Regions from separate parts of the Homo sapiens genome. Here region 2 is linked to region 1. The links come from fine-mapping of genetic effects on gene expression. Tissue or cell type: atrial appendage. Region 1 holds a variant in brackets; the other region holds the start of a gene. All regions are shown on one strand. Distances are between the middles of the regions.

Region 1 (8,102 bases):
GGAGGCTGAGGCAGGAGAATCGCTTGAACCCAGGAGGTGGAGGTTGCAGTGAGCCGAGATCGCGCCATTGCACTCTAGCCTAGGCAACAAGAGCAAAACTCTTTCTCAAAAGAAAAAAAAACTATGCTAAGTGAGAGAAACCACATCAAAAAAAAAAAAAAAAAAACACAACACACTGTAGGATTCTATTTACATGAAATTCTAGAAAATGTAAACTCTGGCGACGGAAAGCAGTCAGTTTGTCTGAAAATGGGAGTGGAGGTAAGAAACAGCATGAGGAAGCTGTGGAGGGTGACAGGATGTCTAGTGGCTGATGGTTGTGACAGCTGCATGGGTGTATACATATGTCAGAACTTACTAATAACACATTCAATAGGCGCAGTTTATTGTATGTCAATTATACACCAATAAAGTCGAAAAAAAAAAATCATCCCATAGTAACAAGGAGAAAGAGAAACAGGATGCAAACGCCATCTTTTTTTTTTTTTTTTTGAGGCAGAGTCTCGCTCTGTCGCCAGGTTGGAGTGCAGTGGCGTGATCTCGGCTCACTGCAACTTCCACCTCCCAGATTCAAGCGATTCTCCTGCCTCAGCCTCCCCAGTAGCTGGGATTATAAGCACCTGCCACCGTGCCTGACTAATTTTTTGTATTTTTAGTAGAGATGGGGTTTCACCGTGTTAGCCAGGATGGTCTCGATCTCCTGACCTCGTGATCCACCCGCCTCGACCTCCCAAAGTGCTGGGATTACAGGCTTGCACCACCACGCCCGGCTAATTTTGTGTTTTTAGTAGAGATGGGGTTTCACCTTCTTGGCCAGACTGCTCTCGAACTCCTGGGCTCAAGCAATCCACCCGCCTCGTCCTCCAAAAGTGCTGGGATTACAGGCATGAGCCACTGCGCCCAGCTACACTCCATTTCCAATGGAAACAGATGAGAGATGAAACCCAAACTAGAAACGAGTCAGAGGGTTGCCCAGGCAGGAAATACCACACAGATGTTTGGGAAGAAGCAGTGAGAAGGGATCACACTGCCCACCAACCAACGTCCCTTATCTGCATGAGCAGGAGTGGGGCCTGTGATCTCATGACAGTGGCATGTGAGATACAGGTAAGCTTGGAACCAAGAAGCAGAAGCAGCAGATCAGACACAGACAATCACACAGACAAGCCACACTTGCAGGCAAAAAGAGGAATCACCAGACTGCACATGAGCAGCCCTACAACTGCACATGGCACTGGGTGTAGTCCTCGCTTCTTCTCCCACACAAACCTCTGGCAAATAGATGGTTGAAGAAAAACTTACCTTGCCCAAAGATGAGAAATAAAAAAGCAAACAGCGCAGCATCTACAGGAAGACACTGCAAGAATTAAAAAATAAAAACGAGAAAAGGAACAGGAAAAACAAGTGGCAAGTGAAAACTCACTAGTAAAAATGTTGTCATAGAACAGATGAAAATTGCCAGCAAACTTTTCGCTGAAAATTAAACAACAACAAAAATTAATAAAGCAGGGCTGGGCGCAGTGACTCACACCTGCAATCCCAGCACTTTGGGAGGCTGAGGCGGGCAGATCACCTGAGGCCAGGAGTTCGAGACCAGCCTAGCCAACACGGCAAAACACCATCTCTACTAAAAATACCAAAATTAGCCGGGCATGGTGGCGCAAGCCTGTAATCCCAGCTACCTGGGAGGCTGAGGTAGGAGAATCGCTTGATCCCAGGAGGCAGAGGTTGCAGCAAGCTGAGATCCCACCACTGCACTCCAGCCTGAGCAACAGAGTAAGACTCCATCTCGAAAAAAAAAAAAAAAATGAATACAGCAATCCTCTCCAGAAAGCAAGCACACAAAACAGATATGAGAGCTCAGGGGGAACATGAAACTGGAGCTGACAGAGCTGGAGAAAGAAGGAAAAACATCGTATCTTCAAAGTCATGATGAAATGGAAAGGTGCGCAGAGGAGCATCAAATATTGCTCAAGACACAATCAAGACACTGAGAACAAGACTGAGGAAAGTGAGCAAAAGGAAATGAAAATGAACGGTGTAAAGAGATTACAGAGAAAATTACAGATTTGGAAGATCTACAAAGGACCCATCATATATCCCAGAATAGAAAACTCAAATAGGGGAACATAAATATTTAAAGATATCATTCAAGAAAATTTTCTTGAAGTAAAAGAAGATAAATCTACAAACTGAAAGGGCACACCATGTCTTGGGGAAAATGACAAAAATCTGTCAATAACAAGGTAATTTCTATGAAAGTAACTAGACTAAAAATATAAAAGAAAGGGGGAAACAGCTAAATAAAAAAGACTTTGGACAGTCAAGTGAAAACATCAATTCATAAAGGGTAACAAAATAGAAGTTAGACTCAGACTTTCCCACAGTGGCATTTAACTCTAGAGACAGAAGTGACATCTGTGAAGTTCTCAAGGAAAGAAAGTGTGGCCTAAGAATTTTATATTCTGGAAAGCTGTCAATCAAACACAAAGACTAGAAACCTTTTTGAACTTGCAATAACTGAATATTTTTTTTTCATTTAGTCCCTTTTGATTAAACTACTGGAGAAGGAATTTCAGCAAATCAAGAGAAAAATAGGAAAACTTCAGCAAGAGAACTGACAGTGAGCAATGAATCTACCTGTAGGGCAATGTGAGTGAGGATTAAGGACATATATAAATATAAACCATGAATTTAGAAATGATACATTAAACAAAAATTGGGAAGAAAAGAAAGAAGGAGAGAGTTGTTAGTATCTGATTTCTTTTTTTTTTTTTTTTTTTTTTTTTTTTTTGAGTCAGGGTCTCACTCTGTTGCCCAGGCTGGAGTGCAGTGGCATGATCCTGGCTCATGGCAACCTCCACTTCCCAGGTTCAAGCAATTCTCCTGCCTCAGCCTCTGGAGTAGCTGGGATTACAGGCGCCTGCCACTACGCCTGGCTAACTTTGTATTTTTACTAGAGACAGGGTTTCACCATGTTGGCCAGGCTGGTCTCAAACTCCTGACCTCGAGTGATCCACCCGCCTCAGCCTCCCAAAGTGCTGGGATTACAGGCGGGAACCACCACACCTGGTCTAAGTCTCTGATTTCTTTATCTTTCTTATGGGGGAGGGGGCAAAAATAAGAAAAAGATAGCATAGAGGTATAAGTACATTTTAAAGACAAACACTAAGAAATATAATCTAAAATTAGATGGCAAAAAAGGAGAAGGGGTAAGAGAAAATACACACTTTTCATAAGTGTTTTTAGTAGGAAACATACTATTGAAAAAGGAATTCAAGGCGAATGCAAAGGCTCACACCTGTAGTCTCAACATTTTGGAAGGCCAAGGTGGGTGGATGGCTTAAGCCCAGGAGTTTGAGAAACTTATCTCTAGCCGGGCGTGGTGGCTCACGCCTGTAATCCCAGCATTTTGGAAGGCTGAGGTGGGCAGATTTGCTTGTTGCCTGGGCAACAGGGCGAAACCCTGTCTCTACAAAAAAAATACAAAAATTAGCTGGGTGTGGTAGTGCATGCCTGTAGTCCCTGATACTCAGATGAGGTGGGAGGATCACTTGAGCCCAGGAGGTTGAGGTTGCAGTGAGCTACAACTGTGCCACTGCACTCCTGCCTGGGCAACAGAGTGAGATTCTGTCTCAAAAACAAAACAAAACAAAAAAAAACCCTTATCTTTAAATAAAGAAACTAAGCCGGGCCCAGTGGCTCACACGTGTAATCCCAGCACTTTGGGAGGCCGAGGTGGGCAGATCACGCGGTCGAGAGATCAAGTCCATCCTGGCCAACAAGGTGAAACCCCATGTCTACTAAAAATGCAAAAATTAGCTGGGCGTGGTAGTGCGCGCCTGTAATCCCAGTTACTCAGGAGGCTGAGGCAGGAGAATCGCTTGAACCCGGGAGGCAGAGGTTGCAGTGAGCCAAGATCACGCCACTGCGCTCCAGCCTGTCAACAGAGACTCCATCTCAAAAAAATAAATAAAAATAAATAAAGAAACTAAAGTATACATCTAAAACAGGAAGTTAGAAAAGAAACAAACCTTTAAAAAGTAGATAGAAAGAATACACAAAAAGTGAAAATGGATTAGAAATGAACACGCACCCAAACGCAGGCATTTCCTCACTACCTGTGTACACTTTCCCCGTGCTCAAAACGGGGGCAAGGCTGGGGGTCGCTGCCCTTGCACTGCCCTCTCCTCTCCCTCCTCCTCCTCCCTACCCTTCCCGGGGCTTACCAGGCACCCTCTCAAGGCCTGATCCATCCCCACCCCATCTCAGCTCTCCTGCGCCCTCCAAGCATGGCCCACCTGCAGCAGGGGCAGAGCGAGGAGCATGCGCTGGGGGGAGGGACAGAGGGGACACAGCGTTGCCCAGTGCAAGGGGGCTAGCAGCCCCCAGAAGGCAACCTGTCCGTGCAACGGCTGAATGGATGGACCAGCAGGTGGCAGGTGGGGACAGAGGGGAGACACAGGGCCACTTACACCCCTTCCCTATTCCGCAGAGCAGAGGCGCCCCACCCTAGCTGCACATGAGAATTACCAGGGAGCTTTAAAAATACCAGGGTCTCTAAGTCCCTTCTCCATACACTCTGATTGAATCAGTTCGTGTCTTTCCACATTGGTCATCTGGTTCCAAAAAGCAAGGTGCACTGGGGAAAGAGGCAGCCCAGGGCATGGAAAAGAGAGGGGGCTCTGGAGCCATCGTTTGGAGTTTAAGCCCTGTCTCTGCCTCTCACTGGCTGTGTGATCTCAGG[C/T]TGGCACCTTAACCTCCCTGAGCCTCAAGGTCGCCATCCGTAAGATATGCTTCCCTCCCAGAAGGGGCTAGGGATGGGTGATTGTACATGTAAACCCTTCTGCTGGTGCAGGGTGCCCAGGATGAGTGTGAGAAGGAGGGCTGCCATGGTTCCCCTGCAGCCACCTCTGACTCTCGGCAGGTAGGCTAGGCTCCAGGACCACCTGCCCCCTCTGGGGAGTGCAGATGTGAGCGAGACCCAGGGGGTGGGGGCAGCCTTGGATCCACAGTCCCAGCTTCGGAGGCTATTCTGGTTCCAATTCAGAATCCCTGGCTCCTGGCTCAATGGGCTTTGTCCCAGAGATGTAATTTCTATTTTGATTCCATGTGACATTTAATGAAATGGCTTTCAGACACCACACAGTGACGGAGTTATGAAACCACAGCTTCTGGATCCTCAACACGCCTCACGATGACAGGACCCCTCTTGCTGCTTAGGGAGCTGCCCCAAGTCTCTTGAGGCCTGGGGCCCAGGACCACTGAGGTGGGGTCTTCACTGCGGAGTCCCTGGGGTCTGCCCCAGGCCCACTGTCTGGCACCCACGTCTCATCCTAGCTGGACTCACAGCAGCCTCTGCCTGGGTTCCCGCCTCAGTCTCCCTCTTGCCAATCCAGTGTTGTTCTAACTGCAGATCAAAAATATTCAGGGAGAGAGGAAGCCAATGTAGAGGATTGCAAACAGCATTGTTCATAGAACAAATGAGCCAGAATAGAAGCAGAACAGAACACGCCAGAACGAGCTGCACATGGCAAGGGCGACTGCAGCTCACAAGCCTGGGCTGCGAGTGTGCACACTAGGTCTCTATGTATGGGAATTTGAGAAAGTTTGAATGACGTGGCTCTAACTCACCACCGTGCCACTCCCCAGTTACAACTTTCGGGATGGACTTCAGACCCCTCAGCACAGCACTAAAAACCCCTCCAGACCTGGCCCCTGTCTACCCACCCACCTGGCCCACAGCCAACTCCAACCACACTGAGCCACTGGGTACTGCAAACTCTGCCAGGAGCTCCCATACCTGCCTGGAATGCAAGAGCCTCCCTCCTCTCTCCAGGCCTCCTTCCCTCCCTCCTTTCCCTCCCGCAGCTTCCACTCTCCCACAGACTCCTACAGATCCCTTACCCTTCAAGGGAAAGGCCACCTCCTCTTTGGTGTCTCCCTGATTCCCCAGCAGCCTTGGGGGCTCCCGGCCCGGTGCTCATGCTACATGGTGTACACTTTGCATAACACGGTCACCCCCACCAGCCAGTGGGGTCATTGTTTTCATGCCTCCCCGCCCTTCCCCCAGTGGGCAGCTAGGACTTCCCTCGAGGGGCTGGCTGAGCTCCTTGGTGCTCAATGTCGTACCATTTACTGACGGCAAGTGCAGGCTGACACCGGGGCCTCTCCCAGGTGACCCTCTCCACATGCTGACCCTCCCTGGGTAAAGACAACCTCCTAGATTCTATAGAAGCAAAGATATAAATATCTCCGGAGCCCTTCCGTTCAAAAGGAAGTAGAAGCCCTACAATTTCTCAACAACTTGGCTATTAAAAATAGGAATTCCACCTACACACCAGAACAGTTTGTTGCGGATCATGGAAGGGCCAGAATCGTGAGGTCACATGTGTTTGGGACTGAGAAAGCTGCTGGACCCAAAAGCTGAGCACTGTAAGAAGGCAGGCAGCTGTCTGCAGCTGGTGCTACAGCCCCGAGGCCCCAGAAATCTCTAGAACCACAGGGATGCCGAATGGTACTCTGCCAAGAGTTTTATAAAACTCACTTCCCCACCACATCATGTGAACATCTGCACAGCACAGGTTCCAAAGGAAATTGAAAAAGAAATAAATCGTGCATTAGCAAGCGTATCTGAGACCTCGTCTCTGACCTTGGAAGAGTGTGAGGAGATGCCTCAGACGCCGGCTCCTGCTGCCACCTCCTCCCACTCCCCGTCCTCAAAACAGAGCCCCAGACCCGGCCCAGAGTTGGGGTCCCCTGAGGATTCAGTCTTCCACATTCATTTCCTGGCCCTCAAGGCCTGAAGCTCCATCCTTCCGCTACCCCCTTGGGTTACAGGAGAGTCCCCAACAGGCGCTGTGCGTGAATAGTGATGGCAGAGCGGACATGCATTCTGTCAGATCCACAGCCACTCCAGAGACAGCCTTGGTGGAGACGGGAGAGGAGGAAGGGGAAGAAAGTGGGCAGAGGGGCCGGGTGTGGTGGCTCACGCCTGTAATCCCAGCACTTTGGGAGGCCAAGGCGGGCGGATCACAAGATCAAGGGATCGAGACCATCCTGGCCAACATGGTGAAACCCCGTCTCTACTACAAATACAAAAATTAGCTGGACACGGTGGTGCACACCTGTAGTCCCAGCTACTCGAGAGGCTGAGGCAGGAGAATTGCTTGAACCCAGGAGGCGGAGGTTGCAGTGAGCCAAGATCGTACCACTGTACCACCTGGCGACAGAGCAAGACTCCGTCTCAAAGAAAAAAAAAAATTGTGCAGAGGTAGCGAGCCCCACTGATGACTCCCACTCTGGGGGCCAGGGACTCCAGTCATGATCTCAACCAGGCCCCCCCAGTGCAACCTGCACGTTACCGTGTCAGACACAGCAGCTTCCCCTGCGGGTCACTCACTCGCTCATTCATTCAACAACACTGAGAGTGCCTGGCCAGGTGCTGGCTGAGCACACCGGAGGACACGGACCCCATCCCTGCCCTCAGGGCACTCAGCTGGAACAAGGCATCAGAAAAGTGTACGATTCTGTGCACTTTGGATAGTATGAAAAAGCGAAGTGGTAAACACTTGGGGCCATGAGGGCTCTGAGGAGGCCCCTAATCTGGCCTCACTGGGTCTGAGGAGGTTCCCAGGGAAAGTGACCTGTAAGTTGAGACCTGAAAGATCAGGAGCGGGTGGGTGGGGACAAAGTCCAGGCTAAGGGAACAGCCTGTGTGAAGGCAGGAGGCTAGAGGATGTGGTGTTTAAGAAGCTCAGGCTCAGGCCAGGCATGGTGGCTCACGCCTGTAATCCCGGCCCTTTGGGAGGCCAAGGCAGGCAGATCACGAGGTCAGGAGATCAAGACCATCCTGGCTAACACGGTGAAACTCTGTCTCTACTAAAAATACAAAAAATTAGCCAGGCGAGGTGGTGGGCGCCTGTAGTCCCAGCTACACGGGAGGCTGAGGCCGGAGAACGGCATGAACCCAGGAGGCAGAGCTTGTAGTGAGTCGAGATCGCGCCACTGCACTGCAGCCTGGGTGACAGAGCAAGACTCTGTCTCAAAACCAAACAAAACAAAACAAAAAAGAAGCTCAGACTCAGGAAGGTTCAAGGCAG
Region 2 (8,102 bases), 67 kb after region 1:
TGCATATTCATAAGAACCAGCACCTGCACAACACATCTTTCTTACGTAACGGCTTGGGAGTGCCATGATTGGTGGGAAACTGCAGGATATCTGAGCAGGGAGAGTAGATCTGCGAGTCCTGAAGCAGGGGCCCTGGAGTGGGGTTTTGAAAGGTGGGTTGGTTTGGCAGGCTATTGTAATGACTGGTCCATGAGTCGTGGTGGGAGGAACTGGCTTCATCTGCAGTAGATGCCTGGCTACTCCTGAAACCAAGGAAAACATCGTTCGGGCGCCCGAGTCCTTCCGAAAAGTATCACCAACTGTAGTCCTCTTCCAGGGTTTAATTTGTTTAAGGAAAGGAAGTTCTATTTTCCCAGAGTTAAGCAGAGAGTTCCCAAACTGGGCTTCACCTTCCACCCACCATCACCAGCACCCACGAGCACTATCACCGCATAAAAGAATCCTTCAGCTGCAGGTGTGACTGCCAGATATTTTCTTAAGAAGGATTACACCCCATTTCAGTTCTCCAATATTCCTGAGACGTTGCTAACTCTTTCGGACAAAAATTCTAGAGACGATCTTAGGGACATTAGTCATGCGGAAAGCTTTTAGGTTGTTTGCTTATTATGGGAAGCTTCTAATAAAATCAATCTGAGTTTTCAGCATATTTGATGGAAGCCAGGTCTACAAATGTAGCAGATTTTAAAATGTTCTCTCAAAGTGGAAAGAATGCTGGCTCTGGCATTCCTCCCGCTGAAGCGGAGCTAATGACAAGTTTTGGGAAACAGTGTTGGAATCAAGAGTGGCCAGAAAAATTGGTTGCCCTGGGAGGTGAACACAGGGAGCTGTGGATGTATTTAAACATGAGTCACATGACTAGCTTCTATTTAGGCAGAAGCAAAACATGTTTTCCTTTAAATCATTAAACTGAGTGAACTCAAGAAAAATCTCGTTTGCCTCTAAGTGTTGTTGTTCTTTGGGGTTTAAAGAGTTTCAAGATGAGATTTGTTTTCTTAAAAACTTATATCAATAGCTTCCAAACGAGACACATCTGTAGACTTAGCGCACCCAAATGACATCTGTGTTTGGCCCCACATCCTACACCTGGATGGTTAAGATGGCACATCAAAAAAAAGGGGGGGAGAGGCCAGGCACGGTAGCTTACGCCTGTAATCCCAGCACTTAGGGAGGCCAAGGCAGGTGGATTACCTGAGGTCAGGAGTTCAAAACCAGCCTGGCGAACATGGTGAAACCCTGTCTCTACTAAAAATACAAAAATTAGCCGGATGTGGTGGTGCGTGCCTGTAATCCCAGCTGCTCAGGAGCCTGAAGCAGAAGAATCACTTGAACCCGGGAGGCGGAGGTTGCAGTGAGCAGAGATCCGGCCACTGCACTACAGCCTGTGCAACAGAGCGAGACTCCGTCTCAAAAAAAAGGCAGGGGGGATCATAAATACTTCCCTTTAAAAAATTTTTTTTCTTTTCTTTTTGCTTTTTCTTTATTGTTTGTTGTTGTTGTTGTTTGTTTTGTTTTTTTTTTTTTTTGAGACGGAGTCTCTTTGGTTGCCCAGGCTGGAGTACAGTGGTGCGATCTCGGCTCACTGCAACCTCCGCCTAACGGGTTCAAGTGACTCCTGCCTCAGGCTCCCGAGCAGCTAGGACTACAGGTGCCCTTCACCATGCCCGGCTAATTTTTGTATTTGTAGTAGAGACAGGGTTTCATCCTATTGGCCAGGCTGGTCTCGAACTCCTGACCTGAAGTGATCCGCTCGCATCAGCCTCCTAAAGTGCTGGGATTACAGCCTCATTTTTTTTCTCTTCTTTTTCTTTTCCCTCTCTGTCTCACCTCTCTTCTCTCTCTCTTTTCTTTTCTTTCTTTCTTTTTTTTTTTTTGAGACAGAGTCCAGCTCTGTTGCCCAGGCTGGAGTGCAGTGGCGTGATCTCGGCTCACTGCAACCTCCACCTCCTGGGTTCAAGTGAGCATGCCCAGCTAATTTTTGTATTTTTAGTAGAGACAGTTTCACCATGTTGGCCAGGCTGGTCTCAAACTCCTCACCTAAAGTGATCTGCTCGCCTCAACCTCTGAAAGTGTTGGGATTACAGGCATGAGCCACCACGTCCAGCTAGATTATAAATACTTTCTTGTTCTTTTTTTTTTTTTTTTTTTTGAGACGAGCCTCACTCTGTCGCCCAGGCTGGAGTGCAGTGGCGCGATCTCGGCTCACTGCAACCTCCACCTCCCGGGTTCACGCCATTCTCCTGCCTCAGTCTCCTGAGTAGCTGGGACTACAGGCGCCCGCCACCACGCCCGGCTAATTTTTTGTATTTTTAGTAGAGACGGTGTTTCACCGTGTTAGCCAGGATGGTCTCGGTCTCTTGACCTCGTGATCCACCTGCCTCGGCTTCCCAAAGTGCTGGGATTACGGGCGTGAGCCACCGCGCCCGGCCTCTTGTTCTCTCTTAATAATAAAAATAAATGGATGTGAATCTGAGTCCCATTTTTATTCCATTTTCTTAGGCATATGTTTTTTAATGTCTACTCCTGAAGTGATAAAATAGTAGAATTTCAAGTCTGTGGTTGGGAAAGTTTAGCCGAAATTCCATTTTCACAATTATTCTGGAATCCAATCAATCAGGATAAAAGTTAATGTCAAGTCAAGATAGGTGAGTTAAACCCAGGACTTTTGAATTGCCCTGTCTTGGAAAGGCTGGAATTTAAAGTTGCAGGAGGTGGGCAAGGGAAGGAAGTAATCACATTTAAGTAAAACACAGAACCAACCAACAGGAAGGCTCGCTGGGTTTGAATTCGGCAGCTTTGGAGTGTTTTCTAGTCTGGGTTGTGGTTAGTTCACTTAAAAAGAAAAGCGGTTAAGGGAAAAAAAAAAAAAATCCGAGACCAAAAGCTAGACTTATGACCACCACCTAGGTATTTCCTTTTGCTTCTTTCCTGTGGCGGGGGGAGGGCGAGGTGGGGGTTGCTTTGCCTTTCTCCTTCATTTTCAAAGTTTTTCTTTCCCAAAAGTAGTGACTATTTGGAGGTTTTGATGAGGCTCAACCTTCACACATCCAGTCTCCGCTGGGGCAACAGAGGGAAGGAGAAGGCCGGAGGGGGCTGTTGGTGCCCGGAGGATCGCCCCTTCCCTCCCGGGGCGTCTCAGGCCTGGCGGACACTGAAAGGTCGGGGCGCACTGACGGCCGGACCTCGCGAACGCAGCGCGCGCAGCCCTCAGGGTCTTTCCCCCGCCCACCCCGCGCATCGCTAGGGGGCTCAGGCTTTGGGAAGTCCCCCCAAGCTCCCGCGGCCTCCCACGGGCCCGGCGAGCGTCGTCTGGGGAGCGTTTCCATAAATGAACAAACTCAGCCGGGCCCCCCGCAGGGTTCAGCAATTCCAGAAGGCCGGGACAGGGCTGACCCGACGGCGGGGAGCGAGGGGACCCGTGGGCGGGAGTGGGGGGACTGTAGGGGGAGACCCGGGAGGGGAGGCCGCGCCCGCACCCGGTGCTCCTCGCCGGGGTCTCGGGCCCGCCCCTCCCTAGGGCCGGTGTGCGCCCCCTCGGGACGCCTATGCAGCCCTGCCTCGCCCGCCCCTCCCCAGGCTCCGGCTCGCACCCCCGTCCTCCGGCCGCGACCCCCGCCCGGGAACCCTAGCCCCTGGCCGCGGTCGCTTCCCGGACCTCGCCCCGCGCCTCCCCCTGCAGCCCGCCCCGGCCGCACCCCCTAGCGTCCCCGCCCCCGGCCGCGCCCCCTCATGGGGGCCCCCTCGGCGGTCCGGGAGGCGGCGGGCGCGCCATGGGCAGCGGCAGCAGCCGGAGCAGCCGGACTCTGAGGCGGCGGCGCAGCCCCGAGAGCCTCCCCGCGGGGCCCGGAGCGGCAGCCCTGGAGGGCGGGACCCGCCGGCGGGTGCCGGTGGCGGCGGCCGAGGTCCCGGGGGCAGCCGCGGAGGAGGCGCCCGGCCGCGACCCCAGCCCCGTGGCGCCCCCCGACGGCAGGGACGAGACGCTGCGCCTGCTGGACGAGCTGCTGGCCGAGTCGGCGGCCTGGGGCCCCCCGGAGCCCGCCCCGCGCCGCCCAGCCCGGCTCCGACCCACCGCGGTCGCGGGGAGCGCGGTGAGTGTGGGAGCCGCAGGGCCTCGGGGGACGGCGGGGACCCCACTCACCGGCCGCGCGTCCCCGCCCCAGCCCTGGGCGCCGGTCGCGCTGCGCCCCCTTCCAGCCTCCGACTTGCGTGCTCCCCGCTGCCCCGGCCTCCCCGCCCCTGGGCCCCCAGGTTTCCTCCCTCTCTGCCCCGTCTCCGGGTCTGTGTCCAGGCGTGGGGGCGATCGCGCTGGGAGCGGCCGAGGAAGGACACCCCTAGGCGGAGCGCGCCGGGCTCCCGGCTCCCCTCGGGCCCGCGGCCCCGCCTGGCCTTCCCGGGCCGCCCTGGAGCGGGGCGCCGGCGGTGGTGGCACGGCAGCCAGACGGTGGCTCAGAAGCGCCCTGCCGCGCCCACCGGTCCAGATCCTTGCCTTGCTGGGCAGGCAATTCTCATGTTACTGATATTTTTAGGATGCTGCGGAATCTCTTTTGCGCTTCCTATTCTCTCTCCCTGAATACTCGTAATAACAGTCCTGCTGTTCTAAAAAAACAATAAAACAAGCACTCTGGTTTGGCAACCGTCTTCGCTCCAGCAGAGCTGAATGAACAAGATCTTTAACATCCGCTCCCGGGCTCGGGGAGGATGCCAAGGGCCTCGTCCTCCTCCCTGAGGCCCGGGAGGCTTTGCTTAGCAGCCGCTGGGAGCCGAGGAAGATGCCTTCCTGGGTGGCTACCGCACCAAGGAATCCTGAAAAGGCCCCAGGGAGGGTGGGGGAGAGGGACAGCCCCAGGCGACAGTGCACAGAGCTCTCTCCCTCTGGCCCTGGTTCCCTGCTCCTCTCCCTTACGGTCTTTAAAGAGGAAAAGCGAGCTGCAGTGAGTAGGGCTGAATTATATAACAAGATTCCTTTAATACCACATCAGCCTGCAGTTATATAACACTGCCTGGACAAATAGCTGAGAAATTTGGGAGGAATTCACACATAGCAAGGAGGCAGTTAATTTTAGTGTTCATTTTCAAGTGCTTTGGAAACTCGGAGGTGAAAATGAGAGGCAAATAGCAAGAGTGAATGTTGTGCCCTCTGATTTGCTGATATTATTCATCATGGTGACTGCTCGCTCTTTAAGTCATTTTCCAGCTATCCTTTGAGCACCGGTCCCGCTGTGGGTGCTAGGGATGAGGCCACACAGCATAGCCCTTGCCTTAAAGAAGTCTGCAGCTCGATGGGGGAAAGTAGAAAGCAGGGCGATGAGAGATCCGTATCAAAAGGCCACAGGAGAAAGCGGCTAATCCCAAGGGAGGCAGGTAGGCATTCCCGAAGGGATGAATTTGGAAGTTGTCCTGAATCTGGAAGGGTCTGTGGACGTGATCCAGGCAGCAAGTTCTGTGCAGAGAGAACCTCATGCCTAATGTCACTGGTGGCTGGGGCAGCTGGTGCCCAGGGCATGGGTCAGAGAGGTCTTAGGAGAGTATGCCAGGCTGCAGTGCGCCATGCCAAGGGTATTCCATGTTAGCGAGTTTGGGTTACTATGAAAGTTCTGGGTATCTGAAAGGTAAGGATTGTGACAGTTTGTGTTTTAGGAACGTCACACCGACAACTGTAGGGAGGATGAACTGGACAGAGTCAGACTAGGGATAACATGACCACCTGTGTGAGTGGGTGGGGGAGTCTGCAATGATCCAGGTGGCCGAGTCCTGAACCAAGGCAGTGGCGGTGAGAGGCTTGCAGAGGAGATGGTTTCAGGAATTGTTGAGGAGGTCAGCCAGCTGCAGTTGCCCTTCTGGGTGTGAACTGTGTGTATCTTTTTTCTTTCTTTCTTTTTTTTTTTTTTGAAACGGAGTTTCACTCTGTTGCCCAGGCTAGAGTCCAGTGGTGTGATCCCGGCTCACTGCAACCTGTGCCTCCCAGGTTCAAGCGATTCTCTTGCCTCAGCCTTCTGAGTATCTGGGATTACAGGTGCCTGCCACCACGCCCAATTTTTGTATTTTTAGAAGAGACGGGGTTTTGCCATGATGGCCAGGCTGGTTTCAAACTCCTGACCTCAGGTGACCCGCCCACCTTGGTCTCCGAAAGTGCTGGGATTATAGGCATGAGCCACCTCACCCAGCCGACTGTATGTATTTTCTGCACCATAAATATTTCTTGAATAAATGAATCCTAGAATCACAGATTATTCGAGGCGGAAGGGAGCCCTTGGGTCCAATTCATTATTTTCAGATAACGCCTGCATACTACAGATGTGCGCCACCACGGCCAGCTAATTTTTGTATTTTTAGCAGAAACAGGGTTTCACCATGTTGGCCAGGCTGGTCTTGAACTCCTGACCTCAGGTGATTCACCCGCCTTGACTTCCCAAAGTGCTGGGATTACAGGTGTGAGCCACTGCACCCGGCCAATAACACTACTTTTAGTTTCTTTAGGAAGAAAGGAGGAAAAGAAACCTTTAATAGCTTCATAACTGTCTAGCATTTTGGAGGAGAGACATATTCTTCATAAAAGAACATCAAACTCAAGTGAAAGTTATTCTTTTAAGCACTCACATTTAAAAATTTTGACCACTGTTGACTGGGAATGTCTTAGAGATGGTCTGTTTATCCCTGAATCATCATTCTGAATATTATGTTTTGTTTTTGTTTTTGTTTTTTGAGACAGAGTCTCGCTGGAGTGAAGAAAGGGGGAGTGAGGTGGCAGGCACAGAAGCTGGGGTTGTGCTGGGGGAGGGGAGCTTCTGCAGTCATCCAAGTGAGATGTGGGGTCATTTGGACCAGGTTGGCGGGCGGTGGTGAGGGGCGGTTGGCTTATGGACTCACTAGTGGGGTGACTGGGATGTGTGAGAAAGAAAGGAATCAAAGGTGAACCAGGAGTTCTTGGCCAGAGCAGCTGGAGGGATGTAGCTGCCGTGAACAGACACAGAAAATGTGGAAGGGGCAGGTTTGGGGTGTCATTAACCAGGAAGTTGGTTTTCAGTATGTTAAATTTGAGATGCCTGTCAGACATCCAAACAGAAATGTCAAGTGAGTAGATCTTTGTAAGAGTTTGGCATTCAGGGGAGAGGTCAGGTTTGGAGTTCGTTTAGAAGCCATTAGAACATGGGAGGATTTAAACCCATGAGATTAGATGGGATCACCAGTGACGATGCTGCCAGCGTGTGCTTAGGAAGCATGGATGGGCACCGGGCTCTGTCCTGGGAGCTTCGTGTATGTGAACTAACGTGGGACGAGGCCAGGGGTTGAGCACGCTGTTCAAAGGTTGAGGAGATAGAGGCATCCTAAAGAACAGCCAGTAAAGGGGAGAAAACCAAGAGAACATCCGGAAGCCAAGGGAGGAAGGTGCTTAGGACGGAGGGCGTGCTCAGCTGCTGGAAGTGCTGCTTGGTGGGATATATGCGGGAAGCCTGAGAGCTGGTGGTTGAATTGAGCCACTCGGGAGGTCTCAAGGTCCTTGGTGAGAGATGGGTCAGAGAGTGGTGGGAGGCGCCTTGGGCTGGAGTTCATGGAGAATAGGACACAAGGAGGGCGGTGCAGTCAGCTCTTGTAGGAAGGCTCTTTTTACAGCGCAGCAGTAGTGGATGGCGGTAGGGATGGTGCTGCTGGACCTGGAATTCACCAGAAAATCTTAGTCCCAGAATGGGCTGGATAAGAGGAGGTTTTGAGCATTAGATGCCCTCGTGAAATTTGAAGGAACCCTTGGAGAAGAAATTTTGGTTTAATCAAGTAGACATAGATTCAGTATTTTAATTTTAATTTTTATTTTATTTTTGAGATGGAATCTTGGTCTGTCGCCCAGGCTGGAGTGCATCGGCTCACTGCAACCTCTGCCTCCAGGATTCAAGCAATTCTCCTGTCTCAGCATCCCGAGTAGCTGGGACTATAGGAGCATGCCACCACGCCTGGCTAATTTTTTTGTATTTTTAGTAGAGATGGGGTTTCACTATATTAGTCAGGCTGTTCTTGAACTCCTGACCTCAGGTGGTCCCCCTGCCTTGGCCTCCCAAAGTGCTGGGATTACAGGTGTAAGTCACTGTGCCTAGCCAGATTCAGTATTTTTA

Evidence for each region. PIP is the estimated chance that this variant, and not a neighbour inherited with it, causes the effect.
Region 2: CYS1 starts here. The variant in region 1 is fine-mapped to the expression of CYS1 in atrial appendage (GTEx, PIP 0.99).

What each region holds. Positions count from the first base shown.
Region 1 is chr2:10,142,836-10,150,937 of GRCh38, reverse strand. It overlaps a transcript of RRM2 not described here. Among named protein-coding and RNA genes, the nearest start is that of RRM2, 24 kb to the right of the region's middle. RefSeq lists an enhancer at 7,608-8,102. The variant C/T (reference allele first, on the strand shown) is at 4,748.
Region 2 is chr2:10,075,889-10,083,990 of GRCh38, reverse strand. CYS1 (cystin 1) reads left to right here and starts at 3,580. Exons shown (of 3, transcript NM_001037160.3): 1 at 3,580-4,085. The coding sequence starts at 3,768. RefSeq lists an enhancer at 962-1,021 and silencers at 3,266-3,505, 3,676-3,735, 3,796-4,035, 4,106-4,445.